Regions from separate parts of the Homo sapiens genome. Here region 1 is linked to region 2. Evidence: fine-mapped expression QTL. A gene starts in region 2. The other region holds a variant in brackets. All regions are shown on one strand. Distances are from middle to middle.

The links.
Region 1: its variant is fine-mapped to the expression of SNED1-AS1 in amygdala (GTEx, PIP above 0.99).

What each region holds. Positions count from the first base shown.
Region 1 is chr2:240,211,020-240,213,913 of GRCh38, reverse strand. LOC107985836 (a long non-coding RNA gene) reads left to right here. Exons shown (of 3, transcript XR_001739238.1): 3 at 2,295-2,512. Among named protein-coding and RNA genes, the nearest start is that of OTOS, 72 kb to the right of the region's middle. The variant G/A (reference allele first, on the strand shown) is at 1,392.
Region 2 is chr2:241,062,411-241,065,304 of GRCh38, reverse strand. SNED1-AS1 (SNED1 antisense RNA 1) reads left to right here and starts at 1,187. Exons shown (of 3, transcript NR_187212.1): 1 at 1,187-1,225. SNED1 (sushi, nidogen and EGF like domains 1) reads right to left here. Exons shown (of 32, transcript NM_001080437.3): 17 at 2,401-2,514; 18 at 1,605-1,718; 19 at 1,180-1,293; 20 at 348-461; 21 at 1-6. It also overlaps a transcript of MTERF4 not described here. RefSeq lists a silencer at 1,079-1,238.

The DNA of each region.
Region 1 (2,894 bases), 850 kb after region 2:
TTTTACACAGTGAGCGCCCTGTGCTACGTCTTGATCACTATCCAAGCGGAATTCTGTGCCCTCCCGACTGCTCAGTCAGACTCAGCATGGTGAACAACCAGCTGATCGAAACAAATCACATCAAGGTCAGAAGCAGGCAGCCCAGGTGCCCCTGCTGCAGGCAGGTCTGTGTAGCGGGTTTACCATGCCCCGGGCTCCATGGGGCCAGGTGCTGGGAAATCCAGTGGCCTGGAGAGGAGCCCCCAGGATCCCCCCGGAGAGGCTCAGAGGGGCTGGGGGGGCTTGGAGGGGCTGGGCCTGGCTGAAGAACCACCCCCAGTGGCCCCTTTACCACTCCCAGTGACCCCTTTGCTGCTCTCTGTGTCCCCCCTTCCTGGTCTTGACAGTCCCTGCATGTGTTGGGGAAACATCTGGATGCACGAACCCCAATTCCTTTTGTCCTGTAAAACCTCAGACTTCTGTCATTAAGCCACGCCAGTGACACCAGCCATTACCTCCTGTGAGGCATGCTGGCCACGTACAGCCGCCTCCCGGGACGCAAGCCAGTGCTCTCTGCTGCAGCTCCTTCACATGTTTCAAAATGAGGTCTGGTATTTCAAGGACTAAGGCTCCTTCACCCTAGGCCAGTCCCCATAGGCCTTGGCTTATGGGAGCAGAGGGCTCGGACACAGCACTAGACCCAGATCTGGAGACAGAGCTGGGAGCAGCCTCCTACTCCCTGGTGGGCAGGATCCCAGGTGCAGCTGCCTAGCAGCTGGGGACCCCAGGGGGACAGAGGCCCAACTCTCCCTCCCTTGGACACACTGGGTCCAGGAATAGCAAGACCCTCCCCTCACACAGGGACAATATTCTCACAGGCAGTTTTTTTAAATCTGTGAGCTGAAATCATGCCAGGTGATTCCAGTTGACTGGGAGTAAGGTTGGAGCGTTCTCCCTACCCCCCTCCTGTGCGGCTAAGAGGGTGCTGACCGTCTCCCCTGGGCCTGGTGACCAAGCCAGCCTTGTCCACCCTGAGCTCCGGTGCACCTGTCCGGGGGAGACAGCAGGCTACCCTACGGCCCACTGAGGGCTTGCTTTGTTCTGGGGCGAGATCCCTGAACAACTTCTTTTAATAATGGAATTGTTAAGGAAAACACACATCCATTACTCTGAGTGAAGGGAAAGACTAGAACTTCGGAGAGCAGGGGGTGTCCTGGGGGTTTCCCTGAGAAACGCTGCTTATCCGAGGTCATTCTCTCGAGGGCATGGGGCTGGGTGGGGAGGCTGCCGTGCTGGACACATTGGCCTGGAGATCCGGAATCGTCCAGGAGCCAAGGGCAGAGACCCCACGGCTTCCCTGTGGCTGCCCCTCTGGAGCTTCCAAGTGCAGGTTGTGGTGGATGGGAGCCCCC[G/A]CCTCAGGGGCGGCCCACCCCAGGAAAGGCCCAGCCTCCCTGCAGGACCAAGGGAGGTCCTGACACTGGGGCCTGAGGCTGCTGGCTGAGGCTCCAGGCCCTGGCCAGGCAGGTGTGGCTTGGAGAGTGGCTCAGTACCGAGCACAGGTGCAGTTTAACCGCCTATGATGAAGCTTCTCCTGGGCCCAGGGATGAGCAGGGAAGGGGAGGGTCATTCAAGCAGATACTCAAGAAACGGGGGCCCAGGTTTGGCTCTCGGGATGCAGCAGCTTGTTGACCCCTGACCCAAGGCACTCCAGGAGGCAGGCCAGGCTGCCTGGGGTGGCCACTTTGGGAGGGACTTACTTTTTCCCACTGTGACCCGGGGGCTATTCCTGTGGGGCCTCAGGAGGACATCCCCATCCACACCAGCCACCTCTTGTTTTCCAGAACCCCATGAGACCCTCTTGTTTTCCAGAACCTAAGGTCCCTGGAGAGCCAACTGGGCCCTGCAGAGAAGCCCCCCCGGCAGGGCACAGCCACATCCTGGGCTGGGTGCAGCCGCGCGTGACTTTCTGGAAGACTCTCCTCCCCAGCCCTGGCCTTACTGCCCTGGGGAGGGAGGTGGGCGGCTGCCTGCTGAACATACTCCACCTGTCCATTTCAGCAGGGTCAGCAGAAACGCTTCCAGGAAAATCAACCCAGCCATCTCTGCCACACTCTGGAACCTAGGGCATAGGGCCGTCAGCCTATCCGGAGGTGCAAGTACAGCTGTCAGCCTGTCTGGAGGTGCACGTCACCCCTGGGCAGCTTGCGGGGGGACAACTTGCTCAGAGCTGGGGCCAGGTGCCCTGCTTGCTGCCCCTTCTCGTGTCCTGACAGCCGGGCACAGGCACCAGCTCCTCCCCTTTCTCCTCTCCCCAGGGCTTTGCCTGGTCCTGAGTCAGGAAAGAAGGTGAAAAACAGGCAGTGGGGAAGACCACTGCAGAGGCGAGACCCACACCACACCCCCTGCTGGAGTTTTAAGGACAGAGTCCCCTGCATTCTTGGGCCCACAGGACCATGGTCTCACCCCTCTCTGCATCTCTTTGGAACCCTTCGTCTCTCATCTTCAGAACAGTCACTGCTTTGTAGTGGGGCCTGAACTCTTTGGTGGAGAACCAGGACGAGGGCACCTCTGTGGCCTGGGTACCACGCCTGACTGTGCCCTCCTCCCCTGTGGCCAGTGACCCTCACTGCGTAGTAGTGGAGCCGTCCTTGAACCTGGGAGGAAAGGCCAACTCAGTGTTCCAGGAGTCGCTGGCCCCTTGCTCCAGCCAACCACCCCACACCCCCACTCATTGCAAACGTATGGGAGGGGCTGCTGCTATTGGCCCCACCTGTGCCAAGGAGAAAAAGCAGAATGACACTTCACACAAAGTTTCGAGAAGTCATGCCAAGGTCAATGCAAGGATATGGAGAAGAAAATACTGGCTAAGACTGGAAATTCAAGGGGGGACCCCTCTGTCCATGAAATGCAGATTC
Region 2 (2,894 bases):
AGAGCTCTTCAGGGTTTGGGTCAAAACAAGGGGAGGGGACTGGTCAGCCGTTAGCTATGCATGCCTGGCTCCCGTCGGCGGCTCAGCCGGGTCTGGCTCTTGGGCCTGACACAGCCATCGCTGGCAGAGTCCTTCTTTGTCCCTGGCCACGTACCTCCAGGAGGGTCACACTTTTGAATGTGTGACCGTGTTTCAAGCCCACCGGGGGATTTTATCCCCTCCCTGTTCCTCAGGGAAGGGGCCTGGGCAAGCAGCGGCCAGACGCTCTGCCCTTGGAGACCGTTGGGCCCTCTAGGGAGAGGGGACCCCCTCGTGGCTCCCTCACTGGAGGCGCCCTCGCCACCCACCTTTGGCGCAGTCCTCGCCCGTGTAGCCCACTTTGCAGGTGCAGCTGTGGGAGCCGTTGCTGGCCAGGCAATAGCCACGGCCCCCACAGGGGCTGGAGAAGCAGGGGTCACTCACTGAGGGGAGAAAAAGTGGCAGTGTATGTTGGGGCGTGGCCAGGGGTCCCTGCTCCAGCCCCGCCCTTGCTCCTGGGGCACTGGGTCCCTCCTGCGTGGGTGTGGAGGGGCGGGGGGCACAGGACAGCTACTGCCTCCCTTCGGTTCTGCCACCTCCACTGCCCTGCGGGGCCCAACCCAGCAGCTCCTCCACCCTCCACAGCGGAGTGCCACCAGCCGGACTGGCTGAGGGGAGGAGACACTGGATCAGGACAGGACAGGCCACCACCCCAGTGACAGTCCTGCTTGAGGAGGGGAGGTCAGTGGTCAGGGAAGCCTCATCAGGAGGTATCCCACTGGGGGCTGATTAGGGAGAATGTTCCAGATGGAAGGACAGCCAGGGGCCAGACCTGGGTGTGCAAGAAACTTGGCCTGTCCAAGGGCAGCAGGGCCTATGTGTGGACGTGAGGCCCCACCCCTGGGTGTGTCCTCGGGTGAAGAGGGGTGTCTGGGGGGTGAGCGCAGGAGATGGGGAGGTTTAGAAGGCACCATTGTGGGACCAAGGGAGACAGGCGGAGGGCCACTGGCCTGAGAAGGGGACTTCCAAGGCGGCGGGCAGAGGGCGGGGAGCAGGCGGGCAGAGGGCGGGGAGCAGGCGGGCAGAGGGCGGGCAGCAGGCGGGCAGAGGGCGGGGAGCAGGCGGGCAGAGGGCGGGGAGCAGGCAGGCCTGCCGCCCTACCTGTCTCGCAGTGGTAGCCGAAGAAGCTCTCTGGGCAGACGCACAGGTAGGCCCCGCCGCCGCTCTCACACCGGCCTCCATGCTGGCAGGGGCTGGAGTCGCAGGCGTCCACCTCTGGAGAACACCCAGAGAGTGGGCCCAAGCTGCAAGGGGGGAGTCTGGGGGAGGGAGGAGAGGACAGCGGGAAGAAGGGAAAGGAGGAGTCTAGGGGCGGAGGCCAGGAGAGAGGGGCAGTGGGCAGGTCCCGCCCCTCAGCCCTCCCCAGCACCCTCACCTCCACCCCTCCCTCCCAAGGTGGCCGCAGCCCTGGGGGTCCCTCTCCCCAGGTGGCCTGCCCAGCAGGGAATGTGGGGATGCCCCACCTCCTCTCTGATCTTCCAGAGGCCCAGGCTCTGCATGTGGGGCCCACTGGAGGGAGCCCCTACCTGTCTCACAGTGGACTCCAACGAAGCCTGCAGGGCACCGGCAGACATAGGCCCCTGGGAGGTTCCTGCAGGACCCTCCATTTCTGCACGGGTGAGCTCGGCACTCATCCCTCTCTGCACAGAGAAGGGGTGTCAAGGGTGTTGCTGGCTCAAGTCTGAGGCGCCCACATGCCCCCAGGATTCCGTGCATTTCCTGGGGCTTCAGTTACCCCTTTCCCAGCTGGGAGCAACTACTCAGGACATGTGCTTTTTCTTCCATCAGCCCCAAACCCACCCCTCCTCGGGAGGCGTGCCACCTCCACTGCCTGCTGGCAAAGCCCCACCTCCAGGCCATGCCTTCCTCCAGGCCACTCCGCAATGGGAGGCTCCCCAGGGCCACGACTGGGCACGGCTCCCTGGGCCTTGCCCTCCCTGGAGCCTGCGTTTCTCAGGCTTAGAGCCCTAGCGAGGTACAAGAGTGTGCAGGGCTCATGGGGCAGGCCTCCCCTCCCTCCACTGGCTGGAAGCACCGACCAGGTGTCAGAGACTGTGACCTGCCCTCTCCGACGCCCACCTTCTCTGCGCCCTGAAGCCAGGCCAGCATTTCTCAGCTGGGCTCTCAGTCTCCCCTGGGGAGGTGCAGGAAGGGATATTTGTAAAATCTTTGTCTTGGATGTCAGAGCTGGCAGGGGCCCGAGAAAGCATGCAGTGGCCACCCTGGCCATCCAGACAGAGACCTGTCCGGGGGACCCAGTGCCTCAGGCACATGGCCAGTGTGCTGCAGCTGTCACCCCAGCGGGGCCAGGGCCCCTCTTACCCAGCTCACAGTGGGCGCCCTCATAGCCTGTGCTGCAGAGGCACAGGTACCCAGCAACGCGGTCCTGACAAGAGCCCCCATGCAGGCACGGCTGAGACCGGCACTCATCGATTTCTGAGAGGAGAGAGCCCAAGAATAAAGCAATGTGGCCACGATTAAGCCAAATTAAGATGCACATAAACTAGTCCTGAGGGGCCAGACAGAATTCGATGATACATCATCAGTGGTTGGAAAGGCCAGAGACCAGGGCTGGATATCCTTGGAGTCGGGGCAGGGCAGTGGGCCTGGGGCTCAGTGCCTGGCTGTGTCTGTGAAGCAGCAGGGCGGGCTTGAAACCACCCCAGGGCTCCCAGAAGACGCTGTGGGACTTAATTCCAGTGGTTCAGGCCGACAGGACAAAGGCCTCAGGGGTTTGACAGAAAATGTCTCATGTCCCATCTTGCCATTTCAATGTATAATAGTCACCTGTGAAACCAGTCCATCTGGGACAAATC